Homo sapiens: one gene and its partners. The protein of the gene in region 1 purifies or fractionates together with the protein of each later gene. This does not show direct contact. Each region holds a gene or a part of one and is shown on either strand. Other genes may lie near its edges. The genes, in order: C8orf74, FGFR2 and MORN2.

Region 1 (6,879 bases):
GACTAAGGAGGCAGCTGTCAGCTTCTTCCCTGTAAGAGTATTCCTTTCTCTTTGTCACTACGAAGGATGTTGTGGGAGAGGTTCTTAGAAAGCATGGAAGTATCCCATTTCTCATCAAGCATCCGCCCACCACTTTCAGCACCCATGGATGGTTCTCAGTGGAATGAAGTATCACTGTGAGGGCAGCCCCAGAGAGCCTGCCCCATGTATTTGCTTAATGAATGAATCTGCACTTCATTGCCCAAGAGGTGGGTGGAGTGACCACAGCTCCTCATGCCACCAGGTCCTTTTCTCATGCAAGCCCTGCACAGGGCCAGGGAGTGGGCAATGCTGCTTCCATGCACCCACCTGACTGCATCCCCCATCTTTGCGTGAGCAAGCTCCAGGACTCCCCCGGCACCTGCAGCAAAGCCAGATCTCCTACCAGGAACAACGTGCAGCCCTTCAGGTCCATGAAGGGTTTTAAGTCAGGGAAGGTGACACATTTGATTTATGTTAAGCAAAACCAAACGAAAACAAAACAAAAGCAAACACCCTGGCTGTTGTGCAAACAGCTTGGAGTGGTTCAGATTTGCAGTCAGGCAGACCAATGAAGACTCAGTGAGGATGTTTGGGAAGGCTGAGTAGAGACCTTATTTTTAAGCATGTGAGGAGGCCCAATGCCAGGGAAGGGCAGGAAGGGGCCCTGGCTCCTCCAAGGCTGCTGGGGCTGTGGACGGCAGGGGAGTTCTATGTGTACCCACCCCATCCCGCCAGCCTCTGCTGACTCCTGCCCTGGACACACCATACCTTTGGTTTCCCTTAGCAGCTCTTCTGTGAACTTGACCACCTGGGCCACCTCCACCCATGGGAAGCCTTTGCCCACTGCAAAGATGATGCTCTCGTAGAGGGTGTCCAGCAGGATGCTCCTCCGGGAGTCTCTCTGTTCGTCAAACTCCTCCCAGTTCAGAAGCCTCCGCAGGCGCTCCCGACCTTGTGGTCTCTGCAGGGAATGACATGGGAACTGCAGGGTATGATGTGGGGGTTGCAGGGCATGATATAGGGGCTACGGGGTGTGATATGGGGGCTATAGGGTGTGATATGGGGGCTGTGGGGTGTGATATGGGGGTTGCAGGGCATGATATGGGGGCTGCATGGTGTGATATGGGGGTTGCAGGGCATGATATGGGGGCTACAGGGTGTGCTATGGGGGTTGCAGGATATGATATGGGGGCTACAGGGTGTGATATGGGGGCTGCGGGGTGTGATATGGGGGTTGCAGGGCATGATATGGGGGCTACAGGGTGTGCTATGGGGGTTGCAGGATATGATATGGGGGCTACAGGGTGTGATATGGGGGCTGCGGGGTGTGATATGGGGGCTGCAGGGTATGATATGAGGGTTGTGGGGTATGATATGGGGTTGTGGGGCATGATATGAGGGCTACAGGGTGTGATATGGGGGCTGCAGGCTGTGATATGGGGGCTGCAGGGTGTGATGTGTGGTCTGTGGGATGTGATATGGGGGCTGCAGGGTATGATATGGGGGTTGCAGGGTATGACATGATGGTTGTGGGGTATGATATGGGGGTTGCGGGGTATGATATGAAGGTTGTGGGGTATGATATGGGGGTTGCGGGGTATGATGTGAAGGTTGTGGGGTATGATATGGGGGTTGTGGGATATGATATGGGGGTCGGAGGGTATGATATGGGGCTGCAGGGTATGATATCGAGGTTGCAGGGTATGATATGGAGGCTGGAGAGTGTGATATGGGGGTTGCAGGGTATAATATGGGGTTGAGGAGTTGAGAAGCCATCTCTACTGGGTAAGACACTTTTGGGGTCCCCACAGTGGTGCTCCAGAGCCCTGAAGAGTAACTAGGTATGTGGGTACCCCTGGGAAGAGCTGTGCTTTGGTTTCTGGGCAGCACTCCCTCCTCCTGGGACTTGCTCTTCTTCTAGGACTTTCTTTCCTCTGAGAGTTCTCATGCTGGCCACTGCAGCCCAGGTTTTGTGTACCTCCAGCAGGCCTCAGGTTCTGAAATACGATCCCTATCCCCCTGCCTAAAATAAAATTTGACTTTCCTGAGTCTACTCTTAACTGACTGCAGTAGAGGCATTGATCTGACAATGAAATTTATACTACAGTGTAAGTGACTGACCAAGAAGGGGCTTGGTGAGGTAATGCTTTAGCAGAAGGAATGAGTCTTGCTTGGTGAAAATTCAGACACACGGGCAGGCCAAGAGGAAAAGGTAAACTTTTTTCCCTGCCTAGAAGTAAAAACCCATTTTACTTGAGAGTTCAGCTGGCCCTTCTGGAAAGTTCTTATAGGCTCCCAGCAGATGTAGGAGAAGCAAGTGCCACTTAAAGGAAGTGGCAAAAAAATGTTTGGGGTGCAGCAGAGACCCACCCACCACACGCAAGAGTGTTGCTTTCCTGAGGCAAGGGATCCTCTGGCTGGGAGGACCCCAAGGGACCCTGGAGGACCAATGGTGGCCTTAGTGACAGAGGGAGGCCTAGAGTCCTGTCCTCGGCCCCCAGAGACTCCTCTTCCACTGCCACCACTCTTCTGCCTAATCTAGACAGCACCCCCTAGAAAGCAGCAGAGCCTCCCCCAACACACTCCCTGCACACAGTGGCTCGCAGGACCCTCAGGGTCCCAGAGGAGGCAGGCACAGTCCCTCACTTCCCTTCAGGCAGGATCTGCTCCTTCTGGGCCTGCATGTGGCTTGAAAAACAGCCCACAAGGTCCAGGGGCTGGTAAGCCCTGGCCTGAAGTTTGGGCCCCACATCTCGTCACAGCCTCAGAGGTGCTGTGCTGAGCCGGGGTGGCTGCCCCGGGGTCTCCTGAAGAGGCGCTTCCAGTGCCCACCTCCCTATGTGCCCAGGATGAGCCAGTTTCTGTTTAAAAGCCACATTTTCTCTTCCTTCACCTGAAGTTGGAAGACTTCTTTCACTCCCTGGGGTGTTAAGAGTGCCATGGCCCCTGCATCTGGTTGCCAGGAGACGGAGCCAGACTGACTCAGAGTTTCCGGAACCCTGGGGGTGGCCAGTGCCAGCTTTGTTAGGTCACGAATGGCTTCTCCCAGGCTTCTCTCCTCCCGGCCCCTCCTGCGATGCGCTGGGCCTGGTCACCTGCACCTGCTCAGGGACAGGAACCCCCCCTTGCCTCTCCCTCATAACCTGTTCTCCTTCAGGAAGTGAGCATTCTGAGGCTTCCCATAAACACACACACACACACACACACACACACACACACACTCTTGCACACACATAGACACATGCACACACGGAGGCACACACATGTACACACACGTGCACACACACATGCATGCGCGCGCACACGCATGCACACATGCTGCCCGTCATCCTCATGTTCTTCTGACTGTAGCCTCATGCCTCCTGCCTGCCGACAGGTCGGGGTGTTTGTCTCCACGGAAAGGACTGCCCGGGCTTGCTGCCTCCACGTCCTCCCTGACTCCTCCTATTAGGGTCTGGCCTCCCCGACCTCCTCCACTGGCCAGTAGCATCCATGGCTCTGTTTCTGGTGTCATGACTTTGCTTTGGGGTAGAGCAAACAGTTCTTCAGGGGTGTCCCCAAGTGCAGTGCCCAAGCCCCTGAAGGCGGCGATTGGGAGGGGTTCGCTCCTTCTCCGGGCCAGCCTTGCTCTTCTCTGTCCTGGAAGTCACTGGCACCCACCGGTTGCCTGGGAGGCAAGTCCTTCCTTCCTCTGCCTCACTGCCCAGAGTCCCAGTGAGGAAAGCCTGGTCCTACTCGCCAGGGTTGGTGGGCAGCTGCCCAGGACCCCTGGCTCCCCAGGTCACCCCATTTCCCCAGGGGGTTGTCTTGGAAGAGGCTCTGGCCATCCTGAACCGTCATCCTCCTTCAGCCACGTGACTGCGTCAAGGACCCGCCCACCTTCCTCCCGTCGTGATGGTGATATTTCAGGGCCCTCACTGCCCTTCCTGGCCACCTAGTCTTCAATGACTTTATCCAACCACGTGACTTCAATGTCCATCCACAGAAAATGACTCACACATTTACGCAGTGGCGGTGTTCACCCCTCTCTGTCTTGGAGTGTGCGACTCACCACACCTCTCCCCAAAGAACGGATACCTGCGGACCTGCGCCGCCTGTGGGGTGTCCAGGGGTCCTCGGGGGCTTCTGAGTGTTTGGGGTGTGTCGCTGGCAGGAGTCCTGATCCGGGGTCAGAAGGGGGTCTCCATGTCCAGGCTCCTCTGGCAGGGGCTGTCCTGAATGCAGTGCTAGGGGTGTCCCCCAGGCTGACACCATGCCTTGGCCCTCAGGTGGAGCCCCTCACTCGAGTCCTTCCCAAGTCTGTGGCCCCGGGACCTCCCCAGGATGCAGCTGGGATGGGTCTCCATACCCCAAGGCTAGAGCCCCTTCTCATCCCGTGTCCTATCCTGCTCCATTTTCTCAGAGTCAGTATTAGTACAGCGCTTTTTGCTGCAATTGTCAGAGACTCAGCCTGACCTTAGGCCAAATGCGAATGTGCTGTCTCACATGACTGAGAAATCTCACGTCTGCTTAAGGTAGGCGGGGGCCAGGTGCTGGCACGGCGCTGTCAGGAACGCCTCCCTGACCCCTGGTTCTGCTTGCCTGTTGTTCATCCATTCTCAGGGTCCTCCCTAAATGCACTTCTAAATCCCCCCACCTGGCCGACTCTTAACTGACACCACCAAACTCAGCCTCTACGAAAATTAGTTCTTCTGGAAAACCCTCCAGATCCCTCTTCAACCCTGGCTGATCAGGTGCCCTCCACTGCTCAAGCCATGCAGTGGCATGATCATGGCTCACTGCAGCCTCCAACTCTTGGCCTCAAGTGATCCTCCTGCCTCAGCCTCCCGAGTGTCTGGGACTACCGGTGAACACCCACCACGCCTGGATAATTATTCTTAATATTTTTTTTGTAGAGATGGGGTCTCACTATGTTGCCCAGGCTGGTCCCAAACTCCTAGCCTCAAGCCATCCCCCTGCCTTGGCCTCCTGAAGCTCTTGGATTACAGGCGTGAGCCACCACACCTGATGGACTGGACCTCATTCTTGACTCCTCACCCTCACTCCTTTCCAGCTGCCTTGAAGCTCTGGGAACTCTGCCTCCTAAACATTTATTGAGCCCATTCTCTTCTCTGAATCCCATTGCTACCCCAAGTAGAGTTCATTCCCATTTCTTGCCACCCCCCCCAACCCCCACACCTACACCATCCATTCTCCACACTGTTGCCAGAGGTAACTAAAAAAATAAATCTAATTATGGACTGGCATTGTCAAGAGCACTTGCTAGGGTGCTGTTGTGTAGCATCGTTTTTCAGGAGGTGGTTACACTGGTGTATATATATGTCTCACTTAAGATCTCTGAATTTTATGTATATTACACCTTCTCCCCTTTCTCTACACACACAAATACATGCGTATATGAAATTAGACTATGTCAATTTCTTGCATCCAAATCTTCCATGGCTGCTCATTCATAAGCCCCAAGGCCTTCATGTGGCTGTCCAGCCTCATGTGACCTTTTCTTCTCCGGCCCACACTGGCCTTGGCTTCACCCACACTCCCTCCAGGACTTTGCCTGCTGCCCTCTCTCCCTGGAATGCTCTTTCTTCCTCTGCTCTTCTAGATAACTCTTTCTGGCTTTTCATGTCTCAAGTTAATCATCCCTTTCTCAAGGAAACCTTTCCTGAGTCCCTGTCACATGCTCTTGTAGCATTAAATGCACCCCCAGTAGCACTTTGCAGGTTGTAATTTTTTCATTTCATGTAGATGATTGTTCTAATGCTGCTTTCTCCTAGATTGTAAGACAAAGAGGGCATTTTGTTTTATTTATGAATGTGTTATTTACCACTGTACATACCTGGCACATAGTAGGCACAACTGTGTGTTGCATGGCTGTGTTCATTTCTATCATGGCTCTTATGACATTGCACCTTGTGTATTGATTGAATGGTGGCTTCCCCCTTTAGCCTGCTGGTCCTGCGAGGGCATGGACAATGTCTTAGTCACCTCTGGAGCCCTGGTGCCCACTGCAGGCCTGGATGGTGGCTGGGACTCAGTACAAGTTTACTGGTGAATAATCAAAAGAATCACAAAGTGACATTGATGGCAAAAACTGGTTACGGACAGAGCCCACCTATGTTCTTGACTCATTTTGGCCACATCCAATGTTCTCTTGCTAAAGAAACATGGACATTCTCAAATCTCTTCTGAGAGCCATGCAAAAGCCACATGGCATGGCAGGCTTGAGCTTAATGGCATTTGTGGTGTCTTTTCCCATTTATTGTGTGTGGGATGAATATTTGGATCTCAGTTTACCTATCCTAAAGGCCTGTTTGGTAATAAAAATGAAATAAAAGCCTCACAGAGTTACCAAACAGCAGTGAAGAGTGTTTTTCATTAGTAGATAGTTCTATTTCAAGAGCTTCAAATTCATTATGTCTTTTAATCCTTGCAACAGTTCTATAAGATGGATATAATTATTAACATTGCCATTTGATATAAGATGAAATTGAGCATAGATGCATTAAATATCTTGTGCAAAAATCACATAACTTAAGAATTGGCCATGCTATCAACACTGCTGCAGGATTCAGGAGTTTTCCAGGTAGGGCCTGACATTTAGGCTTCTAGTTAGTACAAAAGCAGAGTTTACTTCACCACTTGCTTCAAGCTACAAGAATCACCTCTACAATAGAGTTTTTGACTATTCTTGGTTGCATGCAAGATTTGACCATTATTTTTCCCTTTTTATTCTCTATCATCATTATCATCATCAGTATGGTTTTTATCATCTTCATTGTCATCATCATTGACCGCCTGCTAAGACATGAGCTTGGATGCTGGAAATATAAGAAGGTATATTGGTATGGTCACATTATC
Region 2 (10,852 bases), on another chromosome or scaffold:
CATGAAGATCCACTGAGGCATCTTAGCTACCTTGGCCATTTCATCAGTGTAGAAACCAAGCTGATTAATTGAAGTATCTTTTTCTGGAAAAACCAGGAAAGCATTATGTATCTTTATTCAATGATCTGCATCCTATCTCCTCAGCTACGAAATTCTTATGAAGATACTTCATATCCACTAGGATGGCTATAATAAAAAATATGGATAATAACAAGTGTTGACAAGGATGTGGAAAAACTGGAATGCTCATGCACTGCTGGTGGGAATGTAAAATAGTGCAGCCACCTTGGAAAACAGTCTAGCAGTTACCATATGATCCCGCAATTCCACTCCTACATATATGCCCAAGAGAAATGAAAACCTGACCACACAAAAACCCAGTACATGAATGTTCATAACAGCACTATTCATAACTGGAAAGTACAATCTAAATGTCCATCAATGGACAAATGGATAAACAAAATGTAGTAAATTTATATCATGGAATAGGATTTGGCAATAAAAATGAAGTGCTGTTACAGGCTACCGTATGAACAAATCTTGAAAACATTAAGTGAAGAAGTTGGACAAAAAAGGTCACATAGCATATGATTCCATTTACATGAAATGTCTAGAGTAGGCAAATCCATAGACAGAGAGCAGATTGGGGGTTGCCAAGGACTGGGGGAGGGGGAAATGCAAGTGGCTAACAATGGGAATTTGTTGGCTTTATGGAGTGATGAAAACGTTTTGGAATTAGATAGTGGTGATGGTTACACAACGTGGATATACTAAAATCACTGAAATGTAGAAAAAAATTCTCAGGAAGTAGAAAACGAACACTTATTGAGTCCTGTCTGCCACAGCTAAGCCCTACAGCAAATCCTCATGGCAAGTCGAGAGGCTGGTGAGGACCAGGTTCACCTAGAGACAAACATCCAGACAGAAGCTGGGATTTGCGCACCATCACCCAGCTGTAAGAAACAAACCAATCAATTCTGTCCAAGCCCACAAGTCCACTGTCTTTCTCCTGCACTGAACAAGGCTGCAGTCTTGTTCCTTAGACCACATCCCAGCCATGTGACCCTCAGGGACCTCAAGCGGAGCCTCAGCTTCCTCTTCTGTCCTAGCTGAGCCCTCTGGACCCAGCCCTGCAAGCAATCTTCAGTGATGCAGTATAAGGTAGCAGCCCCATTTCTTGTTTTCAAAACTGGAGGTGGAGTCCTCAGTTCATAGCAGCTCAAGTTGTTCAGACGTTTTACTATAAATGCATGTTTTAATTTCCTATGTTCCTATGTGTGGGGTTAAGGAACTCCCCACAAGATCAGATGCAGAGAAGCTCCCTGAGGAGGGATGGAGAGGCTGTGTGGTGGATGCAGGGTACCCTGTCCCCTGGGAATGCACAGAACCCCCGTGAAGATGCTACTTTTCCACCCGCTTTCTCTGGCTCCCCATCCTGCCAGAGGCTACCATCAGCTAGACGTTTTGAGGCAGCCTCTTGGATATGCCTTTCCCAGTTAGGAACAGCAGGCCGGGCACTACACATCCAAGATGCCTGCAATCTTTTGGTTCTTCACAAATGAACTCATCTCATGATGGTTAGGTGACCATCACATGTAGTTGCAACTAATTTCCAACGCTCTCCTTAGGTTCTTGGGGGAGGAGAGCCATAAGCTCCAGGATTCTTATCGAATCCTACCTGTGTATGCTCATTTGGGACAGGTCTCAAAAAAAAAAAGGTACTGTATTACCTATCATTCTCATGGACCACACTGCCTTCTTGCCCTTCATGACAAGTGTCTCTTTCAAAATAATTCTAAAATCAAAATGGCCAAAAGACCATTTAGGATTCTTGCCCACCCATCTCCATGAAATGGGCCAGAAATACAGCAGTTCTTACTGCCATTATAATCTACACTGTCAAGGCTATAAACTGCCCTTCAGTGTCTAAAGTACAGCATATGCACCAGAGAGCTGCACGGAGGAACCAGCGTAGACCCCAGCAAGTCCATCCTCACCCTTGCCAAGGACATCTCACGGTAGAAATGTCCCCAGGGGTACAGAACATCACCCTGTACACTTGTGTCTAACAGGTGACAATTTTCTTAGGTGGCTTTCATGCACCTTATTTTTAAAATCACATTCCCAAGAGCCCTGTTATCCTGTAAGAAACAGAAGGACAGAGGTTTGGGAAATACAGAACCAGGACCCTAGGCCACTCCCCTGATGGCTGGTGACACCTTGCTCCACCATGAATGGCCTCAAACAGAAAGAAGACCCCAAAGACAGCACTCTTTACCAATGGCCCTGTAAGGTTCTAAGAGCCTGGCTGAAGTGCAGGAGAAGTTGGCCTATGTTCAATTCCCTTTCCTGCTGCTGATGAGGCTGGCAAGTAGATACAACAGACCCTTAAGAGTCACAGATTCACATTTGTTAACTGACAGGCAAAACTCCATTTCCCTCTTCAGATCGTTGGTGGTATGAAAATAAATAATTATTCGAACATTTGTCCAAGTTTTCTTTTGGAAAATTTGAAGCAAATCCTTCTCTCCATACATCATGAAGAAAACAGCCTAAAAGGTTTTTAAGTCCCCAGGATTCAGATGTTCTGAACGTCTTCCCTACTCAATACCTGTCATCCTTAGGTCACCTTCCAGTTTGCAAAGCTCTCTACCATGTGGCTCTTTGTTTGCTCCTCTGGGGAACTGGTAGGGCTCAGAAAGGAACGATGATTCCATTGAGGTGCCAGTAAGCAACCGAGCCAGGGCTCCAACCAACTGATTCAGATTTTCCACTGGATCAACCTCAACCTGTCACAGGTACTGCTGGTCTCAGTCAACCCCTCTGGCAAGTCACCCCCGTGTGTAGCACATAAGACCCTTGGCAGCCCTGCCCTTCCTGCATTCACAACAGCACTCAGTCAGCACCTCCAAGCACAGGAAACCATTTGGTAAGACACGAGTATTAAAAAAATAAGTTGCGTGACATTTATTTTGTCTTGTTAACATTAATATCTGTAGAAACATTTTTATTGTCAGTATAAAAATTAACAGGTTTTATTAAATACTTTCTCCAATTTTGTAACACATAAGATCAGTGTAATCTGCATTCATCTTGCACGGCTATTGCAAAGTGAGTGGGTGTTTCCAAAGCAAAACACAATACTTTAGTACAGAAGGAACAACGGCGATATTTTGTCTGATGTAGGTATGAGGCTGGATCTTTTGGTGAGGTCCTGCCAGAATTAGATGAAAGCAATCCCTTAAAAAGATGGACGTATCCCCAAAACTATCAGCAGAACAACTCTGTGTTTCAATTTTCTATGATGGGACTTGAAGATCCTAACAGGCGTCTCCAACGCCAAAGAGTCTGGAAGCCATTATCAAAATTCACTGAAGAGAATACAGGCTAATCTGATTAATGTGCAACTCAGAAGCAGAAGGCCAGCTGCCAGAGAGAAGCACATTCTGCTATCATTTCAACTAAGGTCTGTCCTCAAGGAATGGATTAAGGCATCTTTTAAGAGGACGCTGGTACCATTTATCTTGGGAAGTCCAGTTAGACGTTGCGTTGACGTAATGACAGGGTTGCACACCAAAATGAAACACCTTCCTATGAATGAGTTCTTTTAATATGGGGCATTTAGGAGGTCTAAGAACAATCGTCTGACAGCAGCATTTAAACACAAATAAATCAAAACTTCATTTTCCCCAAATTAGTCATATATTGTAAATATTCTCTTTTCAAAGGATCTGATAACTAGTTAAGTCCAAGCAATAGATTAACTAGTCTGCTGTGCTGCCTGCATAGAAATGCCACTTAAATTACAAAAAAAACTATAAATGATTAATTGTTTTGTATATTACCAATTTATTAATAAATTAACGTTATACCATTTTCCCTGAAAGCAAAAGTATTTTTCCACCTCTGCTCGGTGAAAATTAAGAAATTATGTGTAAGAACAGCATTTAGCAAATAGCTATTAAAAAAAGAGAGACCAATTTTCTAGGTGCATTGGGACATCCATTTAAAATCAATACAAAAAATAACTCCTTGTAAATATATAATATATATTTATACATAATTTGAATATATTTACATACATCCAGCACCTATATACTGCATTTGTGCTCTGTAAGTGTGTGCTGACATAAATCTTCTCCAATTATTACAAAATTAACAAGGAAGGCAGAACGCACGTCCACCTTGAGTCCTACTGGTCCACAGCCAGTACGCACGGCAGGTGAGAGGGGTTACATGGTGGCTTGTGGCAGTCCACTGCTCCAGAAACCTTCTTCTCCTCCTGGGGAAGATTACAAGTTTTCAACTGTATAAATCTTTACACATATGCTGATTACTTTTCCAATTATTTACTCCTCTGATCCATATATACAAGTGGAGACAACAAGCTCTGGGAGGCATGGTCTCCCTGCTCAGTGTAGCTAGGTTCCCAGTGCTGTCCTGTTTGGGGACAGGCAGACACAGTCATTCATGTTTTAACACTGCCGTTTATGTGTGGATACTGAGGAAGGCATGGTTCGTAAGGCATGGGGTCTGGAGAAAAAACAGAATCATCTCCTGAAGAACAAGAACTTCTTGTGTCAGGGTAACTAGGTGAATACTGTTCGAGAGGTTGGCTGAGGTCCAAGTATTCCTGAAAGAAGGGAAGAGAGACGTTTTATTTCATCTTGGGTCAGGATAACAAGGTGAATACGGTTCGAGAGGCTGACTGAGGTCCAAGTATTCCTGAAAGAAGGGAAGAGAAGAGTTTTATTTCAAACACAAACTCTTGAGATGTGGGTATTGGACGTGGGACAGGACAGGAGACCCCTAGAAGGTGAACAGAGACCCAGCCCACCTGACTTCCACGAAGACCTCCCTGAGACCACGTCTGATGTACCCCAGGCTGTCCTTAGCTTTTCTCTTGGAATCCATCATAAATCAACTATTGACAGGTAGAGAACAATAAAACCTAGTTGAGCTATAGGTGCTGGGCAGGCAACTCGGCTTCACACGGACCTAAATAACCCGCTGAGTCTACACCACCTCCTCACTAGAGCCCTTGCTTCAAATGCGAGCCCCAGCAAAATGAAAACCGGTAACATGTTGTGGGTCCCCAGACCCCCTTTAAGTAGTTGAGACTATGAATATTTATTTTCTGAATTACATTTTACTATTGTAGTTTCGGGGATAATTGAAGGGGAATACTTCTTCATTCAGTGGGTAATTTAACAGATGTAACTGATTACTCTCAGAAGCTCTCCGAGTTGAAAATGTAAACAGGTTCAAAAAAGGCTTAGACATACTCATGTATGTTAAATCCATAATGCACTGTTAAAGGAAACTTCAGGAAAATATCGGTTAAGTTTCAAAGTTTTGAAGGTTCGAGATTCAGAAAGTGTCCTTTGCTCCCCAAGGCATCCAGTGCTGGTGCTGCAAAAAGCCCTCTGGATCACCCCAGGGTGACACTTCCTCCGACTTGGGTGCCCACAGACGACTTTGTATGGCCTGAGGGCTAAAGATGGTCTTTAACATTGGTAAGCGGTTGAAAAAAAAAATCAAAAGAAGAAGAATATCTTATAGGATTAAAATGAATAAAATTTATATACAATTATATAAAATTCCAATTTCAGGATCCATAAAATTTTACTAGAAGACAGACTAGAACACATCTATTTACATATTGTCTGTGGCTACTTTGAGGCTACAGTGGCGAAGTTGCAACAGAGACCACAGGGCCGGCAAAGCTGAAAATATTTACTCCCTGGCCCTTTACAGAAAGCAGTTGCCGACCCCTGTTCTGAAGCTATGAAAAGCTTTCTAAATTGGGAACTTGTGGGTCTCTCTGCCTCCACTGGGCTGGCACAGTGGGGCAGTTCTGCTCACACATCCAGAAGCCAACAACTATTCTATGACATGTGGTTTTGCTGAGAGGGGGCAAAAAGTGCAGACCACAGCACAAACAGCCTCAGTGTTATCAGAAAAGAGCCCATGGAATGTTGGCAACTAGACATTTTTAAAGACACACACACACACACACACACACACACACACAAAACCCTCTAATTCATCACCAGGGTTGGCAAGAGAAAGAGTCCCCATCCCAGCATCCCAGAAGGGGAATGTATCAGTTCCAACAACATCAGCATTAACCACACAACTGGAAACAAACACGCCCACCACATCAAAAGAGAACTTTTTGCTTACAATGATAAAAACGAAATTTTGTCCTAAATGGAACCGTTTTTCTTGAGCATATGGTAATGATTTTCAGAAGGAAAGAAACTTCGATTTTTATATCCACCAGACAATATGGCATTCTGCTTTTTTATTTTAGGGTACTAGATACAAATTTCAGTATCAACGGACCCACTCTACATGTAAATATATAAATAAATCACTTTGAGCATAGACATGAGATCATTAAAATAGAACTTTAGTGCTTTTCCCGGTTTCTTTCTTTTTTATTTTTATTTTTTTTTTTTTTGAGACGGAGTCTCGCTCTGTCGCCAAGGCTGGAATGCAATGGCATGATCTCGGCTCACTGCAACCTCCGCCTCCCCGGTTCAAGTGACTCTCCTGCCTCAGCCTCCCGGAGTAGCTGGGATTACAGGTGCACACCAACACGCCCGGCTAATTTTTTGTATCTTTAGTAGAGACAGGGTTTCACCATGTTGGCCAGGCTGGTCTGGAACTCCTGACCTCATGATCCGCCTGCCTCGGCCTCCCAAAGTGCTGGGATTACAGGCATGAGCCACTGCGCCTGACCAACTTTTCCCAGTTTCTCAATGAAGCCATAAACTTTCAGATCTGATAGGAAAAAAACAGGGATATCAGTAGATTCCAAGTCTACAGTTAAAGGAACTTATACTAGAAACAACAATTTTGGCAGAAGAAGAAAGTTGGTTTCTTCCCCCCCTTGAACCGTTCCTTTCCTTTCAACTTCTGAAGGTCAGCTGTATTCATTTAAGTGCAATCTCTTCCTTTATCCAGCACAGGCCACAGTCAGACGCATAAGATAAAGCTGCTGAGCTAAGACTTCATATCACTACATTTGATTATTACTTTTTAAAAAATCACTCTAAAACTATTTCCTAAATCAGAAATTAAGTGTATTATTTTCCTTCTAAAATACTTGGGGGACTTTAACTTTTTTCTTGTTGAGACAATTGCATGGTTTGGAGTTAGTTTCCTGTGTAAAAGAACACTATTGTGCATCCTCATTAAATATCTCAAAATACATTCATTAACAATTTCTCTATCTTAAGATTTGACTAGACTTGATGGGTTTATCATCTTTCCTGCTCAGAGCATATGCTTTCCATAATTATAAAAGGCACTCTATCTGCATATTGAAGGAGCCACTGACATGGCTAAATTTGCACAGTGAGTGACAGACGAGTGTTTATTTTGTTGGCAAGGATCATAAATTATTATTATTTTCTTTTTGAGATGAAGTCTTGCTCTGTCTCCCAGACTGGAGTGCAGTGGCGCAATCTCAGTCACTGCAAACTTCACCTCCTGGGTTCAAGCGATTCCCCTACCTCGCCTCCTAAGTAGCTGGGATTACAGGCACATACCACCACATCCAACTAATTTTTGTATTTTTAGTAGAGACAGGGTTTCGCCATGTTGGCCAGGCTGCTCTCGAACTCCTGGCCTCAGGTGATCTGCCCTCCTCGGCTTCCCAAAATGCTGGGATTACAGGCGAGAGCATAAATATTTTAGGGAAAATAAATATTTTAACAAAAGGTACATGTTTTTATGTAAAAATCATGTAAGTTGCTCATTGTAGAAAACAGTGTATGTTTATATACACCTAGAAAGAGGCTGCAAGGCATATAGCATTACCAACAGGATCACATAGGATAGTACTGTGGTAACAGAAGCTGGTGTTAGAAAACTTCATTGTATTCCATCAAGCAAATGATGACGAACATTATCAGTTTACCCACTAATGACCAAAGCACAGAATCAAACTTGCACAGGAATCCAAGCTTTTTCCCATGCACACCAAAATGCAAGTGAATACTGCTTCCCCTTTCCCACTCTCCCACATACCCCGGACTGCTCCACCAGCAGCTACACTGAAGGCAGCCTCGGGGATGTCCCTCTGTCTTTGGTTTCATGAGTCAGAACTCACAAAATGAAGTTCTGAGAAAAATCATGATTTGAGAGGAACCCATAGTTGAACTATCTGACCCTATGGAAAAAGAATAAACAAGACCACAGACTCCAACCAACAGCCAACAGGGGAGTGTGTGTGTAAAACACTACGCATGTCTCACAAGACAACCAAGGACAAGGGGCTTCTAGAAGGAAGTTCTTACCTCATTGGTTGTGAGAGTGAGAATTCGATCCAAGTCTTCTACCAACTGCTTGAACGTTGGTCTCTGGGAGGGCACTGCATGCCAACAGTCCCTCATCATCATGTACCTGGGAAAAATGGATTTCCTTGAATTAATTTCATATGCACTGGGTACGTGGTTATAGTCAGTTTTAATAGGCAATATGGGGACGTGGTGTAAATTAGGAAAATGCATCAGAACCTTCCAAGCAACTAGATTAGGGGGTCATGAATCACTTTCCCAAAAGCTTCCCTGCCAGTTCCTCCGAAAGGCACTTTGACTTACAAAAACATGTTAGAAAGGCATCGAAGCCATCAAGAAAGACACAGCTATGTGTTTTCCCTGGTAACCCTGGGCCACAGTGACATCTCACAATGGCGTCACACCCTAAAGATGCTTTGGAGGCTGAAGGAAAATGCGTATTTCCATGGGCTGGTCTCCAGTCTTCCCTCCCCTGACACCCTGCCCAGCACCAAAGCAGCTCCACTATTTATCTGCCCGGTGCTTTGGGTCTTAATGATTCTAGTTGACACAGCTTCCTGAGTTAAAAAAAAATTAAATAAAATTTGAAAACTACAACTTCAAGTTTTTGATGAATTAATCTGCCACCACTGGGCTGCACACTAACTTCCTGATTAACTCTTAGATAGGCTTAGCTTCCCAGGTCTTATCTTGATTTTGGGTTTCGACAGATCCTCTACGTTACAAAAGAAAAAAAACAATAGGAATGACAAAGAGCACAATAAATGCCTTTATATAATATGCTATAAAATGTGGCCATTCATCAGACATCCACGGTACACCGAAAAGCACTCACGGGATTACTGATATAAAATCCCCATGAAATGATACACAATAGACCGCAGTTTCTGGGACAATCACTCTTCTTAGTTAATCCTGGAGGGGTTGAGGCAGGAGGCAGAGAGACTCCTTTCAAAGCACTGATTCTATTGCACCAGGCACACGTCACAAACACAACATAACTCCACTTAAAGTGTGAGGCAGGTTTTGCTACAAACCAGTTCATGGTTTTACAGGCAGATCTGGTACAGTAAGGAGGGCGCCTGGACACATGTTTAATTCTCTGCACTAAAACACAAGTGAGACCTAGGTAACCAAACACGAGTTCCTTCGCTCTGAGGAAATGTGGTTGGCGTCAATCTGTAATGGCAATTTTCAATGGTTCGAGAAGTTCTGGAAACACCGATTCTCTACTGGCCACGATGGGGCCAGGCGGGGGCCAGGCACAACCACCAGGGAAAGGCTGTGTTGGTTCCTTAATCCTACACCCTGCAGGGCGGCCCCGCGGCTTTCTAGCTTGTTTCCTGACCCGTGGGTCTTCCTGTCACTCCACGGGAGACCGCAGAAGGTGCAGCACAGTGGCCCAGGAAGACCACTCCTGCTGGCTCTGCAAAGTCAGGAGCCCTCAGCCAGGCAGCCAGACACCCTCTGATCCAAAGCCCTCTCCATACTCAGAATAATGTTCTTTCTCTCAGACAAGTAATGGTTGTCGGTGTCGCTATGTATCCCAGCTCTGGATTGAGCCCAGAGAGCTTCAGCCATTCTTCTTAGAGCATGTTTAGGAAACCAGGGGCCTTCAAAAACGAGATACATCAGGAGAGGTATTACTGGTGTGGCAAGTCCACTGGGGCACCGGCAGGAAAGACAACAGCCCTTACAGTTCGTTGGTGCAGTTGGCTGGCTTATCCATTCTGTGTCCTTCCTTCAGCAGCTTAAAAAGTTCCTCCACGGGAATCCCTGGGTAGGGCGAGCCCCCTAAAGTGAAGATCTCCCACATTAACACCCCGAAGGACCAGCTGCAACAAAAGGAGAAAGCACGGCATTACTAACCCATCCACGTTGCCAAAACCTAAACACGCCCAGCTGAGACATAAACACCTCCTCACTTCTGAAGTTCAAAGACAAATGGGCCCTCCTGCAGTTCCTCCTATGTGCTCTTTCCTGCCCTGCAAGAGCATCCCCGAATGATGATGACACGGGGATGTGCTGATGGAATTTTCCATCAATAGACAAAAAGGCAAACTGCCATCACTCTGGAATAGAGCTGCTTGTCTTAAATGTGGTGTTAGCAATGCAAGGATCTCAGTTTCTCAGTTTCAAAGCCTTTACGCTCCTTTCCAACTCCTTATGTGCCTGACCCAAGGGTTGTGATCTACCAGGATGGGCAGTTGACAGAATAAGGCCAGCAAGCCAACTCCGCAGGATCACAGCTGCCCTGTGTGGCTGGCGGAACATCTGCTGCACAGAGGCTCTGGAACTTACTAAGATCGCAAAGGCAATCAGCACTGGGCTGGGGTTAGGATGAGGAATCACATGCCCCAGATGAGTTGCACACAACAAAACTGAACACATCTCACAGGCCATAATTTATTTACACTTGACTCTTCAGAGATTTGGACTTCCTGTGCCAAGTTCAGGAGGCTCAATCTCTGGGAGGAGCAAGCTGAGAGAGCCAGGTTTAGCTACATCATGGTCGTTCTGGAAACTCAACCTTCTGTACTCGA
Region 3 (9,473 bases), on another chromosome or scaffold:
TTGGAAACAGGGGAAAATCTTCATGACATTGATCTTGGCAATGAGTTCATGGATAATGACACCAAAAGCACAGGCAACAAAACAAAAAATAAACAAGTGGAACCACATCAAACCAAAATCTTCTGCACAGCAAAGGAAACAATCAACAGAGTGAAAAGGTAACAACCTACAGAATGGATGAAAATATCTGCAAATCATATATCAGATCAGGATTTAATCTGTAAAATATATGAGGAATTCTTACAACTCAATGGTAAAAAAAATTAATAACCTGATTTAAAAATGGATTAGGAACTGAACAGACGTTTTTTCAAAGAAGACATATAAATGGTCAATAGGTATTTGGAAAAATGCTCGATGTCACTAATCATCAGAGAAATAGAAATGAAAACCACAATGAGATACCACCTTATACCAGACAGGATGGCTATCATCAAAAACAAAAAACAAATGCTAAGGAGGTGGAGAAATTGAACCCTTGCTGTTTTGTCTCTCTAAACCCTCAAATCCTCGGCTGGAATCACCCCAAAAGCAGTGGCAGGGGGACTTCCCACAAGGGAGTCTCCAACTGTCCTGAGATAGGGCTGGCTGGAATACCAAAGAAAAAACTCTAAGCTCTAGGGTGATCAGTCCAAAGAATTTATTAGGGAAACTTCCTTACAGAGGGCTGCAGCAATTGCTGAGAGAGAAAAGGAATGTTCTACCCAGGTATGTCTGCAGCAAGGGGATCAGAGTCTGGAGTTTCTATGACAGTTTGAGAAATTTGGCTCAGGGCTGGGGGCCAGTTTCAGTGTTTTGAGCAACAACCGAAATACCTTTCTCAGTGCTTGGGAATGTTCAAGGCCCAGTTTGGGTTCAAGCCTGCTGAGAAAAACATATAGCCAGCTGGGTCACAGAGCAGTCAAGGTACTCTGTGATTTTCAGTAAGGGCACAGAAAGAAAGTGGGAAGAACTGGGTTACCATACACTTGCCCACTGTTGCTGGGAATGCAAAATGGTGCAGCTGCTATGGTAAATCCTATGGAAGTTCCTCAAGAGATTAAAAATATAACTACTGTACTTGCTTTGGCAGAACACACACTAAAATTGGAATGATACAGAGAAGATGAGCATGGCCCCTGTGCAAAGATGACATGCAGATTTGTGAAGTGGTCCACATTAAAATAATAATAATAATAAATAAATAAATAACAAGAACAAAAAACTACTATATGAGTCAGCAATCCTACTTCTGGGTGTTTATCCAAAAGAACTGAAGCCGGGTGCAGTGGCTCATGCCTGTAATCCCAGCATTTTGGGAGGCCAGGCAGGCCAGGAGTTCAAGACCAGCCTGGCCAATATGGTGAAACCCTGTCTCTACTGAAAATACCAAAAAATTAGCCAGGGATGGTGGACCACACCTGTAATCCTGGCTACTTGGGTAGCCAGGGCACAAGAATTGCTTGAACCCATAAAGCAGAGGTTGCAGTGAGCCGAGATCACACCACTGCACTCCAGCCCGGGCAACAGAGTGAGACTCCTCTATCTCAAAAAAAAAAAAAAAAAAAAAAAAAAAAGAATTGCTATCAAGATCTCAAATAAATATTAGTACTCCTATGCTCACTGCAGCACTATTTACAATAGTCAAGATGTGGAAACAAACTAAACGTCCACCACCCCTGGCTAATTTTTTGGTATTTTCAGTTGAGATGGGGTTTCACCATGTTGGCCAGGCTGGTCTTGAACGCCTGGCCTGCCTGGCCTCCCAAAATACTGGGATTACAGGCATGAGCCACTGCACCCGGCTTCAATTCTTTTGGATAAACACCCAGAAGTAGGATTGCTGACTCATATAGTAGCAGTCCACCACAATGAATAAAGAAAATGTGGTTTACACATATAATGGAATACTACTCAGCCTTAAAAGAGAAATCCTGTGATTTGTGACAACATGGATGAACCCTGAGGACATTATTCTAAATAAGCCAGTCACAGAAAGACCAGTACTATATGATTCCACTTTTAAGTATGAGGTATTTAAAATAGTCAAATGTGGCCGGGTGGGGTGGCTCACACCTGTAATCCCAGGACTTTGGGAGGCCGAGGGCGGGTGGATCAGAAGTTCGAGACCAGCCTGGTAAACATGGTGAAACCCCATCTCTACTAAAAATACAAAAATTAGCTGGGCATGGTGGCAAGTGCCTGTAATCCCAGCTACTCGGGAGGCTGAGGCAGGAGAATAGCTTGAACCCGGGAGGCAGAGGTTGCAGTGAGCCAAGATTGCACTGTTGCACTCCAGCCTGGGCAAAAAGAGTGAAACCCCATCTCAAAAAAATAAAAAATAAGAAAAATAAAATAGTCAAATTCATAGAATCAAAGAGTAGAATATGGTTACCAGGGGCTGGGGTGATGGGAAAATAAGAGGTAACTAATAAAAGGCCATAAAGTTTCAGTCAAGCAAGATGAATAAGCTCTAGAGATCTGCTGTACAACATTGTACCTATAGTCAACAATAATGTATTGTACACTTAAAATTGTGTTCATTATCCTTAGCAAACTAACAGAACGGGAACAGAAAACCAAATACCGAATGTTCTCACTTATAAGTGGGAGCTAAATGATGAGAACTTGTGGACACAAAGAAAGGAACAACAGACACTGGGGCTACCTGAGGATGGTGGCTGGGAGGAGGGAGAGGATCAGAAAAAATAACTATTGGTACTATGCTTAGTACCTAGGGGACAAAATAATCTGTATAACAAACACTGTGACATGAGTTTACCTGTATAACAAACCTGCACATGTACGCCTGAACCTAAAATAAAAGTTAGAAAATAATAAGAAATGAATAAAATGTATTACAGCCTAAAAAAAAAAGTTGTTTTTTTTTTAAAGAGGTCGGATGTTGACCAGGACACACAAGCACAAACTAGAAAAAAAAAAAAAAAATGACAAAACTCAAACAGAGGATTGGAAATCAACTTTGCCAAGATTTGGATGCTTCTGCCATAGTTATTATAATAAGCAGACTGAATTGAATCATGTCATTTATTTTAAACTAATTGTAAGACAATGAATATAAAGTTCAAAAAGGTGTAAGCAGGTGATGGTTTTATTGGCAAACTTATAGGGGTAGTGTATGAAGTCATTTCAAATAACAGATTAAGTTGCTTTCCTTACAACTAAAAGCTTCAATTACTACATTTCAACTTTAATTTAACATCACATCTACATGTGAAGCTTTAATTTCAGGTCTGGAGCAGCTGTAAAATGAAAGTTACCACTCCATTCTAGTCCTTGGATATCAGTATATTCCCCTTCACCTTCCACCCTGCAATAGTAGAAAATAAGTTTTCCATTAACAAAGATGAATAATTTACAGTCCAGATATAAGATTTTCTAGCATAATATATACTATGTCTGAAGATTATATCCTCTACTTTCAAGCTTTGCTTTTAAACCCAGCATCCTGCTTTCATATCCTACCAAAAAAACAAACAAACCAAAAAAAAAAAAAAAAAAACCACATACTATTCCAAACAAAAACAAACAATTATTTGGTGTCCAAGATTTTAGGATCACATAATCTAGGTTCACACAAAACCAAAACAATGAGTTAAAAAAATGAAAAGTTTATATCGGTTATCTAGCTTAATTACTTCACTTATTCAACAAATATTTTTTCACTATCAATGATGTTTGAGGTGCTGTGCCACCGCACCTGGCCTCCAACAATTTTTAGAAACTATATCATAAAAGAATATTTAGAATTAACTAAATATAGTATTTAAGCAGCTGGGCACAGTGGCTCACGCCTGTAATCTCAGCACTCTGAGAGGCCGAGGCAGGCAGATCACTTGAGGTCAGGAGTTCTAGACCAGCCTGCTCAACACGGTGAAACCCCGTCCCTACTGAAAATACAAAAAATAGCTGGGTGTGGTAGTGCACATCTGTGGACCCAGCTACTTGGGTGGCTGAGGCAAGAGAATCGCTTGAACCCGGGAGGCAGAGGTTGCAGTGAGCCGAGATCACTCCACTGCACTCCTGCCTGGATGACAGAGGGAGACTCTGTCTCAATAAATAAATAAATAAATAAGTATTTAAGCAAACATACCAGAAAATAATCTTTTAGAAATGCAGTGATTTTTTTTTATTTTAAGCTTACCTATTTTCATTGAAATTTCCAGTATACTTTGCCCCATTTGGGAATGTGTAAGTCCCCAGTCCATGAAACATATTATCCTTAAATTGTCCTTCATATACTGCTCCTGAAAAATGCTCAAGTCTTCCAAAACCATTCATCTGTTTGTAACAAAGGAAATTACCTTAGAAACTAATCTTCAGTTTCCCAAGAACCTTTAAAAAATGTACAAATATAAGTCTATCATCTGCTAATTATTACTTAACCAACTTTGTATTGTCCTTTATTTCCATAGTATAAAGACAACATTTTTATCATTTTCCTTCATCTGTATCTATCTGTGAAGCCCAGTAAATTAAATGTTCTGGATCTGGGACATTTGAACATCAGGGGGTCCATGATGAAGATAAATAGGGGTCCTCAAGATACCCTGAATGTATCAGAAATCTTAAAGGGCAACCAGTTTAGTTAGTTCAGGAAACCAGTACAAAGTAGTTGTTAAGAATTCAAATTTGGATTTGAGCAGACCAGGGTATACTTTCCTGTTTTATCATTTACTAGCTGGGCAAGAAACCTGAGCCTGATTTTCCTCATTTGTAAAATAGAGTATTAATGGTACCTATCTCATGAGGTTATTATGAGGATTAAATGAGAAAATTATGTAACGGATTCAGCTTTACTCAATGAATAGGAGATGAGAAAGAAAGTAACGATGATTAGCTTTCTACAGTGAGTTTAATATTACTCATAAGTTAATATATGTTAATATGATCATTTGTTATTTTTATTATATAGTCTACTCATTATAGGAGTTTTTGATTAATGGTGAAATGCCTGGAATCACTAAACCTACAGGGTTATTTATCCACTGCCAATATTAAAAACAACAATAATACCTTGTCATCTTTCCAGCTTCCTGTGTAGACAATCCCATTAGGAGTGGTATGAATACCTATTCCATTTCTCTCGTAGATTCCAGAAGATGTTCTTGTACAGTCACCATCTAAACAGAGGAGAAAAACTGAAGATTATAAATGAGAATAGTTATGTCTGGGCCTAATCGCAACTACACCTCATGGGTTTCTTTGGCTCCCTAGCACTGAAACCAGTGAGACCAGAGATGAGAAAATCCATGGACACAGAACATCTTGTAACAATTGAGACTCAAGGGCCAGGAAGATTGACAGATCCCATAGGTTTCCAAGGCATTGGAATTTTGATTTTAAAAGCTCTTTATCTATTAGGATTTCTGTTATTTTAGTTAATAAAGTTAATATCCTAATAGTAGTTTTATAAAATTTAACAGTCTCAGTTTTTTATTCCTAAGCTATTTAATTTTCTATACAGAAAAAGTAATTGAAGCGTATACTTACCATACTTGTCTCCATTTGGAAAGATAAAGCTGATCTTATACACTTCTGAAGCTGTTTTAAAAGATTTAAAAACAGTGACATAAGTTTACTTTTTTTTCGATAGAGGCAAGGTTTCACTACATTGCCCAGGCCAGTCTCAAACTCCTGGGCTCAAGCGATCCTCCCGCCTCAGCCTCCCAAAGTGCTGGGGATGCAAATGTGAGCCACCACACCCAACCAAGTGTAAACATTCTTATGTCATAAGACCTATACCCAATGTGCTTTCAGCACTATCCAAATGGACTTACTTCTCAAGATCACATCATATCATGATTACTTGGTATTTCCATTGTCTAATGTAGGGTCCCGGGGAAATAAACAATTTTGCCTAGATGATCTCTTTTAAAATTTATTTATTATGATAGCTTTATTAATATATAATTCACACACCACAAAATCTACCCTTTAAAAAAATACAATTTGATTTTTTTAGTATATTCAGAGTTGTGCAACTATCATCACAATCTAATTTTAGAATATTTTAATCATCCCAGAAAGAAACTCTGTACACATTAGCAGTTACCCATTATGATTCCCCTCAAACACCCCTCACCCCACAACCCCAAACCCCTGGCAACCACTAATCTACTTTCTGCCTCAGGGATTTGCCTATTCTGGACATTTCTTATAAATGAAATCATATAATATGTGGTCCTTTATGTCTGGCTCGTTTCACTTAATGTTTCCAAGGCTCATCCATGTTGCATCGTGTATCAGTACTTCATTCCTTTTTATAGCCAAGTATATTGTATAAATATGTTGTACAGAAACAGCATATTTTGTTTATTCATTCATCAGTTCATGGACATGTAGGTTGTTTCCAGTTTGAGGCCATTATGAATAATACTGCTATAAACACTGATGTACATTTTCAAAACATACAGCTTCCTAGGAGTAAAAAAAAAATTGGTGTACAGATTTTTGTGTGGATATGTTTTTATTTCTCTTTGGTAGCCCATATGATTTACTGATTGTCCCACAGAGGTAAGGTGGAGTGAGGAATCTTTAAATTGGCAATAGGAAGAAATGGAAAATAAAGATAGCAAGTGGGGAAGGGCTGGTAGGTCCACACAGAATGAGACTGGAATGGAGACCAAGTGAAAAAGGAAGAAAGAGGACCGCAAGACTGAGGGGGACTCTGGGCCTCAGATCCCTGGACACTTACTGGACTAAAACTAGAAACTGTATTTTCCGATACTGAAGAAAACTTATGTAGAGACGGTATGCAGGCCCATCCTTCAGAATCACCTGAGATGCTTCTAAGTTTCTTCTCTCTACCCCACATCTACTGAATCAGTCTTTACGGGTGGGGCAAGGGAATTTAAAAATTAATTTAGGTACCACTTGAGAAAGGCTTGGAGGCTCATCACTGAGGAAACAGAGTTAACACAATAGGTAGAGGACTTAAACTGTAACATCCTCAGAGAGAAAGGGAGAGTATTAGTATCCTTGAAATAGGAACAGGTGATTACAAAAAACAAAAAACAATTAGCAATCCAGGAAATGAATAATATAATTGGTGAAATAAAACTTCTTAGAAGGGATGAAAAGCAGAATAGATACAATTGAAAACAAATTAGTGAACTGGAACATTAGGTTGAAAAATGTGCTTAGAAAGTAGCACAAAGTGTGAGTGAGATGGCTGGAAAAAAAATTTTTTAATTAAAAAAAAAGAAAGTAGCACAAAGAATTTTAAAATGATGGAAAGTGGATCCAAAAGGCTACTGTCAGTCTAATAAGAATTCCAGAGGGAAAGAATAAGGGATATTTGAATAAATAGCCAAATTTTTCTCAGAACTGAAGAAAATGACTGCTTGGACTACAAATGGGAACTAAGCAAAATCCCACACCTAGACAGGTTACAGTACAATTTCATGACATAAAGACCAAAGGCCAGCTAGGCTAGTTAAAAACAAGCAAACAAAAACCAGATTACCTACAATAAACTACAAAGGACTGACATTAGCAACAGTGGATTCTAAAAAAAAATGGCACTATGTCTTTAAAATTCCGAGACAAAATTATTTTCAACCTAATATTCTACATCCAACGAAACTATCAATCTAAAATCATGGAAACTGGCAGGCACGCTGGTAGGATGAATTACTGGCTCATGCCTGGAATCCCAGCACTTCGGGAGGCTGAGGAGGGTGGGTTGCTTGAGCCTAGGAGTTCGAGACCAGCCTGGGCAACATGGTGAAACCCATTCTCCACAAAAAATACAAGAATTAGCTGGGTGTGGTGTTGCATGCTTGTTGTCCATGCTACTTGGGGGCTGAGGTGGGAGGATCGCTTGAGCCCAGGAAGTGAAGGCTGCAGTGAGTCCGATCACACCCTGCCCTCCAGCCTGGGTGAGACAGCAAGACTCTGTCTTAAAAAAATAATAAAATAAAAAAAATTAAGTTTTAAAAATAGAATCTGGTGGCTCATGCCTGTAATCCCAACGCTTTGGGTGGGTGAGGTGGGAGGACTGCTTGAGCCCAGGAGTTTGAGACCAGCCTGGGCAACATAGTGAGATTCCATCTACACCAAAATTAAAAACTCAAAAAGAAAAAAAAAGAATCTGTAACTAAAACTCAGGTAATATCAATATGGAAATGGTGTGGAGGATAGAGAGCAATCTTGCTAGAATTCTGATCTCGTTTAGGGGTTAAATATAGACACTAATTAACACTAAATCTTAGAAAAATCTGAATTTAGTTATGTTTGCTTATTTTTTCCCCATAATTTCTAAGATTTGGTTGTGGATAAAGGGTGAAGTATGGTGGTATACAGAAATTGCCATGTGTGCTCATTAATTAGTTATTTACATGTCTGCAAGATGTGAAATTCCAAGAGAGCAGGGACACAGAGCTACTTTCTTTCTTTTTTATTTTTTAATTTAATTTAATTTAATTTAATTTATTTATTTATTTATTTATTTTTGAGACGGAGTCTCGCTCTGTCGCCCAGGCTGGAGTGCAGTGGCTTGATCTCGTCTCACTGCAACCTCCGCCTCCCGGGTTCACGCCATTCTCCTGCCTCAGCCTCCCAAGTAGCTGGAACTACAGGCGTCAGAGCTACTTTCTAAGTGTTTAACTAATGATAACTAACTAGATTACCAGATCTGCTTGTAGTTTCCCACAGATGCCATGCCGTACTCTGGGTGGAACACCCTTCTCTTCTTTACCTGGTTAACTGCTATTCATCCTCAAGAGTTGGCAAAATAGAGTGTAGTAGTTAGGGGTTCATGCTCTGGCATCGGACTACCTACCTTTGCATCCAGACTCCACCATTTTCTCTGACCTTGGACAAATAATTATCTTATGCCTCAGTTTCCTCATCCTTAGATGGGGCAAATCAAGTAAATGAGCTAATCTAGTTAAAGCACTTAGCCCAGTGTCTAAACTCTGTAAATATTAGCTATTGTATTCTTGTAGCCCCAGCTCAGGTATGAGCTCTCCCACAAAGCCTTTCTTCTCATTACTTGTCAACCTCAGACTCCTTCAGGAACCCCCACGGCACTCTGGGCCTATTCCTACTGTAGTACTTAAGGTTCTATTAAAACCATGCTTTTGTATCGGGATCCCCTATCCCACCCAGTTCCTCCAGGACACGGATGGCAGATTAGTCAAATCTCTTCTCACCCCACTGTCCGACTCCGTGTTTAGTACTAATAGTAACAGAACGTCTAGTGAATGAAGGGCACTTCGGAAGGAATCGTTAAGTGCCTATGAAGCAGAGCATTAAACGTAATCATATCAGAAACTGGACTGTTTTCAATTGCCGCTAAAATGTTCTACATTCGAAACTTGGGAACGTCAGAGCTAGAGGGAACCTCACAGAGACCACCCGGCACCATAGCGGAAACTGAGGCCCAGGGAGGTTGGCACGCGCCTCGGGTGTCTCAACAGCGAATTAACAACAGAATCAGAGCTAGATTCCCAGACCAGGGGTTCCCC

Evidence for each region.
Region 2: the proteins of C8orf74 (region 1) and FGFR2 purify together in Homo sapiens (affinity purification with mass spectrometry; 3 studies listed by BioGRID and IntAct, with this or other methods). This does not show direct contact.
Region 3: the proteins of C8orf74 (region 1) and MORN2 purify together in Homo sapiens (affinity purification with mass spectrometry; 3 studies listed by BioGRID and IntAct, with this or other methods). This does not show direct contact.

Annotation. Positions count from the first base shown.
Region 1 is NC_000008.11:10,668,749-10,675,627, reverse strand, and holds the start of C8orf74 (uncharacterized protein C8orf74), read right to left. Parts: upstream 3,001-6,879; 5' UTR 2,963-3,000; coding exon 2,915-2,962; intron 1,970-2,914; coding exon of another isoform or gene 1,928-1,969; intron 1,046-1,927; coding exon of another isoform or gene 983-1,045; coding exon 790-982; intron 1-789.
Region 2 is NC_000010.11:121,475,389-121,486,240, forward strand, and holds the end of FGFR2 (fibroblast growth factor receptor 2 isoform 1 precursor), read right to left. Parts: intron 10,145-10,852; coding exon 10,007-10,144; intron 8,416-10,006; coding exon 8,310-8,415; intron 6,790-8,309; coding exon of another isoform or gene 6,784-6,789; exon of another isoform or gene 6,436-6,783; intron 4,726-6,435; coding exon of another isoform or gene 4,663-4,725; exon of another isoform or gene 4,634-4,662; coding exon 4,469-4,633; 3' UTR 4,283-4,468; coding exon of another isoform or gene 4,193-4,282; 3' UTR 2,944-4,192; downstream 1-2,943. UniProt on the Homo sapiens protein: Tyrosine-protein kinase that acts as a cell-surface receptor for fibroblast growth factors and plays an essential role in the regulation of cell proliferation, differentiation, migration and apoptosis, and in the regulation of embryonic development.
Region 3 is NC_000002.12:38,876,250-38,885,722, reverse strand, and holds the end of MORN2 (MORN repeat-containing protein 2), read right to left. Parts: intron 5,545-9,473; coding exon 5,494-5,544; intron 5,124-5,493; coding exon 5,017-5,123; intron 4,282-5,016; coding exon 4,145-4,281; intron 3,311-4,144; coding exon 3,208-3,310; 3' UTR 3,014-3,207; downstream 1-3,013. UniProt on the Homo sapiens protein: Might have a role in spermatogenesis.